Homo sapiens: one gene and its partner. The protein of the gene in region 2 purifies or fractionates together with the protein of the main gene of each other region. This does not show direct contact. Each region holds a gene or a part of one and is shown on either strand. Other genes may lie near its edges.

Region 1 (2,656 bases), on a different chromosome or scaffold from region 2:
TACGGCAAGTCCAAGTTCTTCATCGAGGAAATGATCCGGGACCTGTGCCAGGCAGACAAGGTGAGGGCCCCCTTGACAGTGCCCTGGCTCCACTGATCGATGGACTCCTCAGGGCCCACCCTGAGCCCAGGGGTGGGATTCCGAACACCCCCACTAAGGAGGAAGCTAAGGCTCAGGCAGTTGCAGTGGAGGGCCCCATCCCCTGCTTGTTTCTAAAGATAATAAATAGACAACTGGCCGGGCGCAGTGGCTCATACCTGTAATCTCAGCACTTTGGGAGGCCCAGGTGGGCAGATCACCTGAGGTCAGGAGTTCAAGACCAGCCTGGACAACATGGTAAAACCCCCATCTCTACTAAAAATACAAACATTAGCCGGCCATGGTGGTGTGTGCCTGTGGTCCCAGCTATTCGGGAGGCTGAGGCACAAGAATTGCTTGAACCTGGAAGGCAGAGGTTGAAGTGAGCCAAATCAGGCCACTACACTCCAGCCTGGGCCATAGTGAGACTCCATCTCAAAAAAACAGAATAGGCATGAGGAGGGCTCTGGGTTCAGCTGGGACACGCTGCCTGTGCCTCTGGCCTCACCACCTGACCCACATCCCACAGACTTGGAACGCAGTGCTGCTGCGCTATTTCAACCCCACAGGTGCCCATGCCTCTGGCTGCATTGGTGAGGATCCCCAGGGCATACCCAACAACCTCATGCCTTATGTCTCCCAGGTAAGGCAAAAGGGAAGGGACAGAGGAGTGGCCCTGGGGTTAAAGCTGGTGCCTGGGATCTGGGACGAACTGACCTGATCTCCACCTCCAGGTGGCGATCGGGCGACGGGAGGCCCTGAATGTCTTTGGCAATGACTATGACACAGAGGATGGCACAGGTGAGCCTAGGACCAGGGGGACCTAGGAGTGGGAGCCAGGAAGGAGAGTCAGGGGGAACAGACTCCCCATCCAACACACTCCCTTCTCTGCAGGTGTCCGGGATTACATCCATGTCGTGGATCTGGCCAAGGGCCACATTGCAGCCTTAAGGAAGCTGAAAGAACAGTGTGGCTGCCGGGTAGGAAGAGAAGGGAGAAGTGAGGGAGGGGAGGGACCAGATCCAGGCAGAGCGGCCCAGAGGCGTGGTCAGTCCAGCCCGCTCCATAAACCCTGTTCTCCGTGGGCCAGATCTACAACCTGGGCACGGGCACAGGCTATTCAGTGCTGCAGATGGTCCAGGCTATGGAGAAGGCCTCTGGGAAGAAGGTAGGCCCCCCCGCCCCACCCACCTCACCCACCTCACCCCACCCAGCTCTCAGCAACAGAGCAGCTTTGGCCCTTCCCACTCACCTCTCTGGAGGGTACCTGGCACTGCCCAGTCTCCTCAGCCTGCCTAGCACCCGGTGCCTGCGGGCCAGCCGCTGCTCTGCACTTCTGCTTCTTAAAGACCTGGCCAGCAGCTGGGCCAGGGCCGGCTCAGCTAAGCTCCAACTACCTCCTGTCTTGCAGATCCCGTACAAGGTGGTGGCACGGCGGGAAGGTGATGTGGCAGCCTGTTACGCCAACCCCAGCCTGGCCCAAGAGGAGCTGGGGTGGACAGCAGCCTTAGGGCTGGACAGGATGTGTGAGTGCTGGCCTGACCCCTGCAGTTAGGGGCCAGGGAGGGGCTAAATCAGATCTGGGCATGCCCACCCAGGGCGGGCTGTGGGGTGGGGGAGGCTCTGCATTCCACCGTGGGCCCTGAGCACACACCTCGCCGTGTTGCAGGTGAGGATCTCTGGCGCTGGCAGAAGCAGAATCCTTCAGGCTTTGGCACGCAAGCCTGAGGACCCTCCCCTACCAAGGACCAGGAAAAGCAGCAGCTGCCTGCTCTCCAGCCTCTGGCAGGAACTCAGGGCCCTGGAGCTGCTGGGGCCAAGCCAAGGCCTCCCCTACCTCAAACCCCAGCTGGGCCCGCTTAGCCCACCAGGCATGAGGCCAAGGGCTCCACTGACCAGGAGGCCGAGGTCTCTAACTCTTATCTTCCACAGGGTCCAAGAGTTCATCAGGACCCCCAAGAGTGAGTGAGGGGGCAAGGCTCTGGCACAAAACCTCCTCCTCCCAGGCACTCATTTATATTGCTCTGAAAGAGCTTTCCAAAGTATTTAAAAATAAAAACAAGTTTTCTTACACTGGGGCAGGTTCTCACAGATGGTCACTATCCACCCCTGGAATAGAATCAGCCAGGCCTGAGCGTTGAGGAAGCAATTTCTTTAATTTTATCGGAATCCAGGACACAACAAGAAAAACACCCAAAAACCACATGGAGACAGAAGACGAGACACAACTCCTCCCCCACTGCCTCCCTGCTCTAGAGTGGGGACAAAGTGGGGGTGAGACAGCTGGGGGGAGACCTGAACCTCAGTCCAGCCCTACAGGCTCCAGGCCTGCAGGGAAGGAGGGTAACGGGGAGGCAGGGCCCAGCCCCCCAGTGTGGGGAAACAGCTGAGGGAAGGCCCCCCTCAAAAGGCTCCACCTCCTCACCAGCACTCCTGCCCAGGGACAGGGAGCCCACAGCAGCAAGGGGACCCCGGGGCCATGGCCACATTCATGACTGAGAAGCAGCTGAGTGGAGGCAGGAGACACGATTATCTGGGCAGAATCAGTTGGGGCAGGGGCCTGGGGGGGCCCCATGGG
Region 2 (3,946 bases):
TGGACTAAATAGGCTGGTGTGGCACCACCTTGGGCTTGTAGGTTCCTTAAAAAATATGTGATCAAAGTTTCAGACTGACTGTCAAATTAATTTCTGGAAAACAGACCATTGTGAGTTTATGGAGAGAGTCAAGAAGCAGCAATAAGGACTGCACTCTTGCCTGGACACTTTAACTAGTATGACCCTCTCCAGGCTCACCTCTCCTTTATTAGCTCTAAATTTCTGCATTCCTAAAAATGAGGAAGCTGAACTAGATTGCCTAGAAGATGCTTTAATGGTCTAACCTTCTATGCCATAGTAGGTTTTTATCTTCTCTTCTCTAATGTAAACATCAATGTCAGAGAGTCAATCAATATTGCAAAAGGTGAACAGAATAAAGACACCAATTCAGGAGAACACTTTCCCGTGTACAAGTCACACAACTGTCATCCAAGACAGTACAAACATTCTTGCCCCTACTGGTTCCACAGTACTCCTCTCCTAAGTACACTTCCATATTTCTTGCTGAACTTAAAATGCCAATAGAAGCGATTTCTTCACCTCCATCAGGGCCACACCTCAGGTAAAGGAAGCAGGGGTTTTCATCTTGGTTGTTCAATCTTCTCTTCTAAATCACCAGATTCTGGCTGAGAAGAAAACAGGTGAAAACATCACACAGTATAGTTTCTGAACATGGCTCAAAACCCACTTGTTAGGCCATGAGGTTTATTCTAACAAATGCTCAACACAGAATTCATAAGGAAATGGAGGCATCACACATCAGGGCTTCCCCCTCTATTTTTTCCTCAATCATCAACGTTCTACTCAGTCCCCTGCAATTGATTCTCGGATACATTACTGGACACCTACTGTGTGCACAGGAGTAGGAGCAGAACACAATAGAAGACAAAGTGTATCTTTTTCGAAATTAAGTCGACGGCGGTCGTCTATAGCTGGACTTTTTACACAGCCTGTTTTGGTGGAGAGGAGGTGGCTTGTTTGAGGGTAGATGGGCGGACTGACTTTGATAGCAGCCCTGACGACCCGTCACGCCTGACGGGGACGTTTATGAAATTCCAAGTCCTGGTCACCTTCCCCCGCTCATGCCTCGGGGCCTCGGGTACTTCCCGGCCAGACCTACCCCGCCTCCGCCCACCCCGGTCCTCGCCTCCACCTCGCAGCCCCGCTCCCCCGCAGAGACCCGACACCAACTGCTCTCCTGGATCCCGGACTCAGACCCTCACGTTCCCCGAGGAGCGCGGCAGTCGCCGAGCGCAGCGACCCGGTCGCCGGCGGCCCGGCGCACCGTGGCGCAGGTGGCGCCAGAAGCTCCTCCCAGTCGAAGTCGCGGGCGCAGACACGAGCCCGGGTGAGGAGGCTGTGAGTTAGGGCCCCGCCTGCGGCATCCCAGGAAGAGGCAAGCGTGGGGCGGCGGGTGAGGCCCCCGTCCTCGGACCGCGTGTCCACTGCGCCGCCTCCTGCCAGGCCTCTCTTCCAGTGCTTAAGTGTCGGCCAGTGCAGCGCAGAAACGGGCAGGCAGAGCGACTCCCGGCTTACATCATTTCAAATGCCCGCCGCTTCTGGATTTGGTGAGAACCTGCACCAGAGAAACGCATGCGCATAAGCCAACTGGACTCGAGAGGCGTTCAAACTTTGCTCAGGAAGCGCTAAAGAGCGGAGCATGCGCACTGGCAGGCCCTCGCTCAGCCTTTGGAGACCATGCGCAGGCGCGGTGCACTGTGCGCGGGCACCACGGCGGTTTTTCGACGCTGGCGGTGGACGCAGGCAGCATGGACCACGGTTGCTGGGCGGATGGGGAGCGTCTATGGTCAGGTAGGTGTCGTCTCTTCGCTCTACGCGATGTGCAGGACCGACTCCTGACCTCGTTCTTTCCCGAGTGGACGCCAGGGCCTTTTCTGCCTCCACTCCGTCGGGTCTGCAGCATTTGTGGCAGCGAACGCGGCGGAAGCGCTGTCCATTCGGGTTAATTTTACTCCGAACTCTCCCTGCCTCTCTCATACACATTCTCGCGTTAGAGGGGAGTTGAGGTAGATATTGAACGGCGTTAGTGGTGGACGCTGGGCCACACGGGCCTTCCCCAGGTGCCATCTCATTTGATGCTCCCTGATCCTACGGCGTTGCCAGGACTATGCTGGATGCCCTCGTGACAGAAATCAGAAGGTTGAGAAAGATCCCAGGTGTTTGGATGGAGCGGTCGCCTGAGGGAGTTTTCCAGATGCCCCATGGAATAGGAAGTAGATCTTGCCTCTTTCTTCCTTTTGTACTCCAGATGCATTCTAAGTTGTGTACACCAGACTTCCTGTTCTTTATGCCCAGCCCATTGTAGTCATAAGTTAACTTTGATACATGTCATCATAATTGGACAGTCTAAAGGAAAATAGGCTTTTTAGAATTACCTATCTGAAACTTCATGAGCAAGATCAATACTATAAGCTGGATTTTGACTTCCTTAAATAAGGCAGAAAGCCTACAGCATTTTGTCGTCTCCCCTTTCTTTCAATCTCGTATGTTCAGTATTATCACCCAGTCTTGTTTTATTTTTGGTTTTTAAAGAAAAACTTCCCTGTCTTTCTCCATCTCTGCCTCTCTGTTTTGAAATACTAGCTTTCATCGGAACAATTCCAGGAGTTTCTTTACTGGTTGATAGTCATTATCTCCTCACCTGCGTTTCATTTTCTGCACTGCCCTCTAATCTTTTATCAATTGTCCTGATGCTTGATGCTTTCTGACTGAATCACCATCACCATTACTTTTTTTTTTCTTTTGAGATGGAGTTTCAGTCTGTCACCCAGGCTGGAGTACAGTGGTGTGATCTCGGCTCCTGCAACTTCCGCCTCTTGGGTTCAAGCGATTCTCCTGCCTCAGCCTTCTGAGTAGCTGGGACTACAGGCGTGCACCACCAGGCCCAGCTAATTTTTGTATTTTTAGGAGAGACAGGGTTTTGCCATGTTGGCCAGGCTGGTCTCAAACTCCTGGCTTCAAGTGATCCGCCCGCCTCGGCTCCCAAAAGTGCTGGGATTACAAGCGTGAGCCACCGCACCTGGCCACCATTACTTCTTAACAGGCATACAAAGCCCTTTATCCTTGACTTCTGCCTGCCTCCTAGACCCCCCAGCTTTTGTACATGCTTTTCCCTCTACCTAGAATGCCCCTTCTTTTGGATAGGAAAAATCCTGTTCATCATTTAGTGCCAAGCACAGCCCTCCACACTGTGAGAGAATTTGTCAGTAATTTCTCTCTGCTACACTTAGAGTTTTTAGATACTATAATTCTCTTCTGGTATGGAGCTTTACCAAATAATTCTCACATTTGTTTTCCCAACCATCTGTACAGTTGTTGAAAATAGGAATTGTTTTGTGCCTAGTAGAGATTGAGTATAGGTTTGTTGTATGGAATTGATAGAGATAGCAATAGGGGTTGTTTGGGAACTCTATCACAGTATAACAGGAGTAGAAAGAGGTGAAACTGGCAAATTCAATCTTATTTTCAAAGCTGAAAAAACTTTGCAAAAGTTAGTGAGAAAATTATGACAGTGAAAGAGATCTGAGCTAATCCATCCCCAGTCTTGCCTTGATTATTCTTGGGCTTTTGGGACATTTAGGCTATAGTTTAAATTATCATAGGCCTTCCCCCAAACTCAACTGCTTTTGCATCAGGCTGGCAGGAGGAGAGGAGCCTGGGTCCTGCTAAGGTGCAGACATGAACTATTATCAGTTATTATTCAGAAGGTTATAAGATATGCAACTTCCCCAATTATTCCTGCAGATAACACCACTATTGTAGACTGGCCTTTTGAGATATCTTTTCAGGGTTTTTTTGCATGTCTGACACCCACCATTCCTACAGCCCCACCCAGAAGTGACTCAATGTGCAAGAGGACAGCTTCACCCCTTGTGATTTCATCTCTGCCCCAACTAATCAGCAGCAAGCCTAGCGACCTCCACCA

What was found.
Region 1: the proteins of FAM24B (region 2) and GALE purify together in Homo sapiens (affinity purification with mass spectrometry; one large-scale study listed by BioGRID and IntAct). This does not show direct contact.

Annotation. Positions count from the first base shown.
Region 1 is NC_000001.11:23,795,099-23,797,754, reverse strand, and holds the end of GALE (UDP-glucose 4-epimerase), read left to right. Parts: coding exon 1-60; intron 61-607; coding exon 608-721; intron 722-812; coding exon 813-879; intron 880-972; coding exon 973-1,058; intron 1,059-1,168; coding exon 1,169-1,246; intron 1,247-1,489; coding exon 1,490-1,604; intron 1,605-1,747; coding exon 1,748-1,806; 3' UTR 1,807-2,156; downstream 2,157-2,656. UniProt on the Homo sapiens protein: Catalyzes two distinct but analogous reactions: the reversible epimerization of UDP-glucose to UDP-galactose and the reversible epimerization of UDP-N-acetylglucosamine to UDP-N-acetylgalactosamine.
Region 2 is NC_000010.11:122,877,351-122,881,296, reverse strand, and holds the start of FAM24B (protein FAM24B precursor), read left to right. Parts: upstream 1-1,715; 5' UTR 1,716-1,812; intron 1,813-3,946.